2 separate regions of the Homo sapiens genome follow, and region 2 is linked to region 1. A link means that fine-mapping ties the variant in region 1 to the expression of a gene that starts in the linked region. Tissue or cell type: monocytes after Pam3CSK4. Region 1 holds a variant in brackets; the other region holds the start of a gene. All regions are shown on one strand. Distances are from middle to middle.

Region 1 (2,682 bases):
GGCTTCTGGCCATCTCAGGCTAGAGACAGGGCCTAGAGGAGGGGGTGAGGGCCACGATGGATACAGGCTGGGCACTCTGAGCCCTTTTGACAAGCAGGAGAAATGATGGGTCAAGGAATTTGACCTCCCTGCTCCCCAGTCCTCTCCATAGGAGAGAAAGCATGCACTTCGGAATTTGAATCCCGGCTTAACAAGCTTGGTATCTGACTGACCTTAGGCAAGCTGTTGGGCCTCAGTTTCCTCATTTATAAATCAGGTCTTATAAAATGATTAAATGATCTTTCACAAGACTGTTAAAAGGATTACATGGAATACTGCATTATAAAACACTTAGCTCAGGGCCCTGGCATATATTAAGAATGTAATAGATGGTAATTCATTTATTCATTATTATTATCATGATTATTTCATGGATCCACCACCAGTCCTGCTGCCATAGATCAGATCTTAGGGGGTGTCAAGTTTGGGAGCCTAGGGAAGGGGTGGGGTTTCAGGCCACTGCAAGCGACAATGAGGTCTATAGAAGTGAGGGGAGGGGAGACCAGGGAGAGAGCAGATGAAAGAAAATTTGAAGCAGCTGCAGAGGATAGGGCAGGTCCAAGCCCCATGTGTAGTCCCTGGCTAACCAGCCTGGGCCGCTGTCCCCATGCACTGCCCAGATGGAAGAGACAGTTGACTGGCTAACTGAGAGATCTCTGCCTGAGACAAACCCACCCACGAGGGAGAAATTCCAGCCACCTTCTTTCCAGCATCCTCCACAAAGTTTCTTATTTCCACAAGCCCCTTTGAGGTCTTTAACTTATAATCTAAGGGGGTAAAATTTGCTCATATTCTTTCAGAGGCTAGCCTCAGAGAACTGCATTTTTAAGATTTGCTGTCATAGGCCAGGCACGGTGGCTTACGCCTGTTATCCCAGCACTTTGGGAGGCCAAGGCAGGCAGATACTTGAGGTCAGGAGTCCGAGACCAGCCTGGACAACATGGTAAAACCACGTCTCTACTAAAAATACAAAAATTAGCTGAGCATGGTGGTGGGTGCCTGTAATCCTAGCTACTCTGGAGGCTGAGGCAGAAGAATTGCTTGAACCCAGGAGGCGGAGGTTGCAGTGAATAGAGATCGTGCCACTATACTCCAGCCTGGGCGACAGAGCGAGACTCCATCTCAAAAAAAAAAAAAAATTGCTGTTTTAGCCTTCAGTAAGCCTAGATGCCCACACCTCATCCCCCTACTCAGGCATGGTCTGGGTGTGCCCTACGTGATGTTAACCAGGGCGCTTGCTCTGGCCAGGCTTCCAAAGCTTGGGAATTTAATTAGCCAAGAGAAAGAGGTTCCTCCCAGTGAGGGGGCTTTGCTTCCTCGGATAATTTCCATGGCTCCTTCTGCAGCTGAGTTAGTTCTCACTGGTTTTCATTTTGCTCTGCTCTGCTCAAACTCTCTCAGTCACACTCTGCATTTGCTTTAAGACTGGGTTTGGTGTCCTGTCCAAGCTCTCCCAGCCTGGCCCTGATTTTGCCTTTGCTGCTGCCCCCGTGGTGAGTCAGCTGACTCCCAGAGGCCTCCTCAAACCCTGGCTGAGGGCCTTCTA[A/G]TCTCACCTCTGTGTTCTCCTTTGCAGGCAGCTACAGGATCGGGATGGAGCAGCAAAAGAACTAGGAAAGCCAGAGTGAGAACAGCCACACCCCTTCTCTCTAGGTCCAGTTTCCATTTTAATTCAATGTGATGGATATTTATAGAGTGTCTAACACAGGAGGGCTCAGAACCAAGTGTGTGTGCGTGTGAGTGTGTGTGGGAGAGGGCGTGTGTGTGCCTTGGGAGGTTCTGTGATGGGATAGATGGAGACTCATCTTTTTTGGCTTATATCTCATATCTTAAAAAATGAAATTCAGAACTGCTTTGAATGTTCTACAGAACACATCGCACCCCGTCAATACTGATCAATGGATGAACTGAGTTTTTTAATTTCAGGGTTTTCTCACAAGTTGGGTCCCCAGGGCCCAGAGGGAACACTACCCCCTCAGCTCTCAGCCCCTCCAATCTCCACACTAATCCATGGCTTTGCCTCTTGTGGCTCTCGGGCTGAGAGCTGGAGGTAATCATGATAAGTCTGCAATTAACACAGTCTCCCTCCTCCTCTAACCTTAACAAAGACAGAGACAGCCAGCACAGGGGCTGCACTTGTCTCCTCCTCTGCGCTGTTTGTTAGCCTCACAGATTATTATTAGAGGCACTGCAGAGCTAATCACCTCCCTGGTGGACACCCTGCCTCCCCCTGGCTCCTGCTCCTACATCCTCTGCATTTGACCTGGCTTCCCAGGGCTCCCTGGCTGCTTGCTGGCTGCTCCCGGGGAGGAGCAGAGGTGAGCCCACCTGGGCAGTTCTAGGGGATCATCTCCCCCAGGAGGGTGGCCTCTGCCCTGAGCCCCCAAGGACAGACACTGGTGGGGGTAGAGGGGGTGGAGGAAGAGAGGGGAGAGGAGAAGAGAAGGAGAGGGAGGAGGAACTTCGGAGAGGTACTGTAAGCTAAGCTGCCCTGGCGCTTATTCAACTCTAGTTAAGCCCTTGTTAGTACAACCAGGGGGAAGCACACTGGGAGAGGGAGGAAGACCAGAGGATGGCAGAGCTCCCCTCCCATAAATCAATGAAGGGTAATAGAGGAGGGTAATTAGCATTTCTCTCCTTCCCCAA
Region 2 (2,682 bases), 63 kb before region 1:
GGGCTGTAGTGCTAATTAGGAAACTAAGGCAGAGTCCCAGCACTAGGAATGGAACCACTTTAGTGGTGATCAAGGGAAGGGTGTTTGCCACAAACATACTGGATCCTGAATCTGTGGGCAGACATCTGAGTACAGCACTTCCCCTACCAGTAAAAGGGAGGTGCTAGTGCCCTCCTAGCCCAATTAGGGCAGGCTCCGTAGCTGGGTGGGGCTGAGCTTGTAGGAAAAGGCCTACTAGGCAGTGCCCTGCAGGGCTGGGCAAGCCAGGACTGATGGCTGGGCCAGGTGAGAAAGATTTCCTGCTGTATTTGCAGACTGAATATGTGTCTGGGGCTAGGGGCTGAGCTGCTGCCAGCACCATCTGACCTCAAGGATCCCCCTAGTCAACAAGCAGCAAGAACAGGAGACTCCAGAGGCTCCCTCAGCTTTGGAGATAGCTCTGCAAACAAAACTCAGTTTTTAGGGGTTAATCCTCAGCCCCAGGAGGAGGCAGTGGGCCTCCTCTGAAGGGCAGAGTCAGCAAGTGGGCTGAGACTAAAGGAAAGGCCCAAGACTGCAGGCCTGAGATTAGTTTGGCAGCAGCTCCAAAGAGCAGCCCTTGAATCGCAGGGATTGTCTGAGCCCTCAAAAGCACTGGCTGCCTCCCACCAGCCTAGCTAATGGGGCTGAGCTGCTGGGGCCATGACCTCTGTCTACCCGGCTGATGGTCTGCTGCTCTGAATCTCACTCCCCCAGCACCCAGCAGGACCAAGGGCTCTGTCTAGCTTATGTGCATCGTGCCCTTGCATGTTTTCAGCACCTACTATGCGCGCAGCATCACACCTCCCCATCCACCTGCCTCCTGTTACTCTCACCAGCACGCTCAGTCAACCCTTGGGCTAATTAGTGATTAGGTCTACAGTAAGCATGCATGGTGGGGTGCAGAGAGTGGGGTGGCCAGCGGGTGATGAGTGAGGGGAGAAGAGAACAGGAGATAGGAGGTCATGGTCTGACCTTCTTCCAAAGCCCGGAATCCCTGAGTCTGTCTCTGGCAGCTGTGAAACAGAGGGAGCATGGGATCTGAACCGTGCCGCCATCTGGGAGGTCACACACACTCACAGCCAAACCCCCGGAAGGAAACTCGGGCTGAAATACACCGTTTGCTGAAGAGCAGGGCTGGGCACTGGTTTCTCTGCGTTCTGAATTTCTAGAAAGGGTAGGGTCTCCGTTGCCAGGCGGCGTCTGCCACCTCTTCCCACCGCGGCCCCTCCAGCCCTCCACCCCTTCCCCTGGGAGACCCCCTGTGAGGACCCTCAGCAAACTTCTGCAAAACCTGACGGGCCCTGGGTGCAGGGTGGTGTGGACGCAGATCTTTCAGGCCGAGGGGGGGGCGGCGGGAGGGTGGGCGTGGAGGTGCGAGAGGCGCGCAGCCTCCGCCTGCCCAGCTGTCTCTGCGGACCCCGCCGAGGGAGGGAGAGAAGCGCTAGGAAAAGGAAGAGGAGAAGGAGCTCGAGCGGGAGGCAAGCGAGAGGCTCTTTTGCTCCTCCCAAAGCAGGGGGCGGCTCCACTGTGCTTCTGATGACCCGGCCGCCGCCGCCGCCCTGCAACCGCTCCCCGGGACCCCTCAACGCTGACACTGATGACCCGCGGCGGGGGCGCTGGGCGCGGGGTGCGCAGGCCACTGGCCGCGGGCTCTCGGGCCCGCTCCTGCCGCCGGCTTCTGCTGCTTCCGCGGTAATGACACTCGGCGGAGCGGCCGCCATCTCTTCTGGTACTTTCACTGGAGGAGGGAAGGGTGGGGAGAGCCCTCTGTCCACCCCTGCCCTGCCCTGGCGCTGGTCCGCCACTGCCCGCTGCTCTCGCGCTGGTCCGCAGCTCAGCCGAGCAGCTCCCTTCATCTGGCCTCCCAGACCCTCACTCAGCCGCGAGAGGAGGAGCTCCGGCGACCTCGGGCCTTCCCTTAGGGTCTGCGCGGCCCTTACCCCAAACCCGCCCAAGGTAGAGGCGTGAAGGGGCCGGCGGCGATGCAGAGGCGGGAAGCGCATTGGGGAGGCGAGGCTGGAGAAGGGGACGCAGGGAGGCGGGGGGTGGACCCCCAGCATACTCCAGGAGCCGGCAGGAGCCAAACCCCAGCCCTCCACACAGGTATTCCTGCGGACCACGAGGTGCCACCCGTCCCTGGTCGCAGAAAAGACGAAGGGAAGGCCCAGCTTCCCTACCTCTACCTCCCATGCCGGGCGCCCAGCCTGCTCAACTGAACCCCAAGCCGCAGGTTAACCCTGCTCCAGCTTCTCCCCTTGGCTATGGGCAAACTCCTTTTCTCTTTCCCATTGAGAACCACCGCTCAAATTCGGAGGGCTTTCCTCCTTGGTGCTCAGAGCTCCCAAGATGGGTGATTCTCTGCCAGGGGTCCTTAGCTACCCACTTTGGACAAGGATGGACAGATGTTTTCTCAAGCTTGCCTAAAGCACAGCTTCTAAACAGATGAGCCCTCCCCACGTTCCCCGCAGATTGTCTGGCCTTCGAGGAAATAAAGATGACCGTAGCCAAGCTGCCCTGCTCCGCACAAAGGACCCTGGGCGCCCCATCCTTAACTCCCCTGCCTTATGCTTGAGATTAGCATATCCACCCAGCAACTCCTCTGCTCCAGACTTAACTTGACCACTGCAGTCCACACCGACTCTCCTATCCACCAGAACTGTG

Direction of the effects. Alleles are on the strand shown, and positions count from the first base shown. SD is a standard deviation of normalised expression in the study named.
In carriers of allele A in region 1, the expression in monocytes after Pam3CSK4 of the gene that starts at base 1,543 in region 2 tends to be higher than with G alone (large effect, 0.82 SD a copy in Quach 2016).

What was found. PIP is the estimated chance that this variant, and not a neighbour inherited with it, causes the effect.
Region 2: it holds the start of LINC00900, and the variant in region 1 is fine-mapped to the expression of LINC00900 in monocytes after Pam3CSK4 (Quach 2016, PIP 0.95).

The regions. Positions count from the first base shown.
Region 1 is chr11:115,695,712-115,698,393 of GRCh38, reverse strand. All of the region lies in intron 2 of LINC02698 (long intergenic non-protein coding RNA 2698), which reads right to left. Among named protein-coding and RNA genes, the nearest start is that of LINC02698, 38 kb to the right of the region's middle. The variant A/G (reference allele first, on the strand shown) is at 1,586.
Region 2 is chr11:115,759,061-115,761,742 of GRCh38, reverse strand. It overlaps LINC00900 (long intergenic non-protein coding RNA 900), which reads left to right and starts at 1,543. Exons shown (of 3, transcript NR_034148.1): 1 at 1,543-1,713. All of the region lies in intron 2 of LINC02698 (long intergenic non-protein coding RNA 2698), which reads right to left. RefSeq lists an enhancer at 1,949-2,483.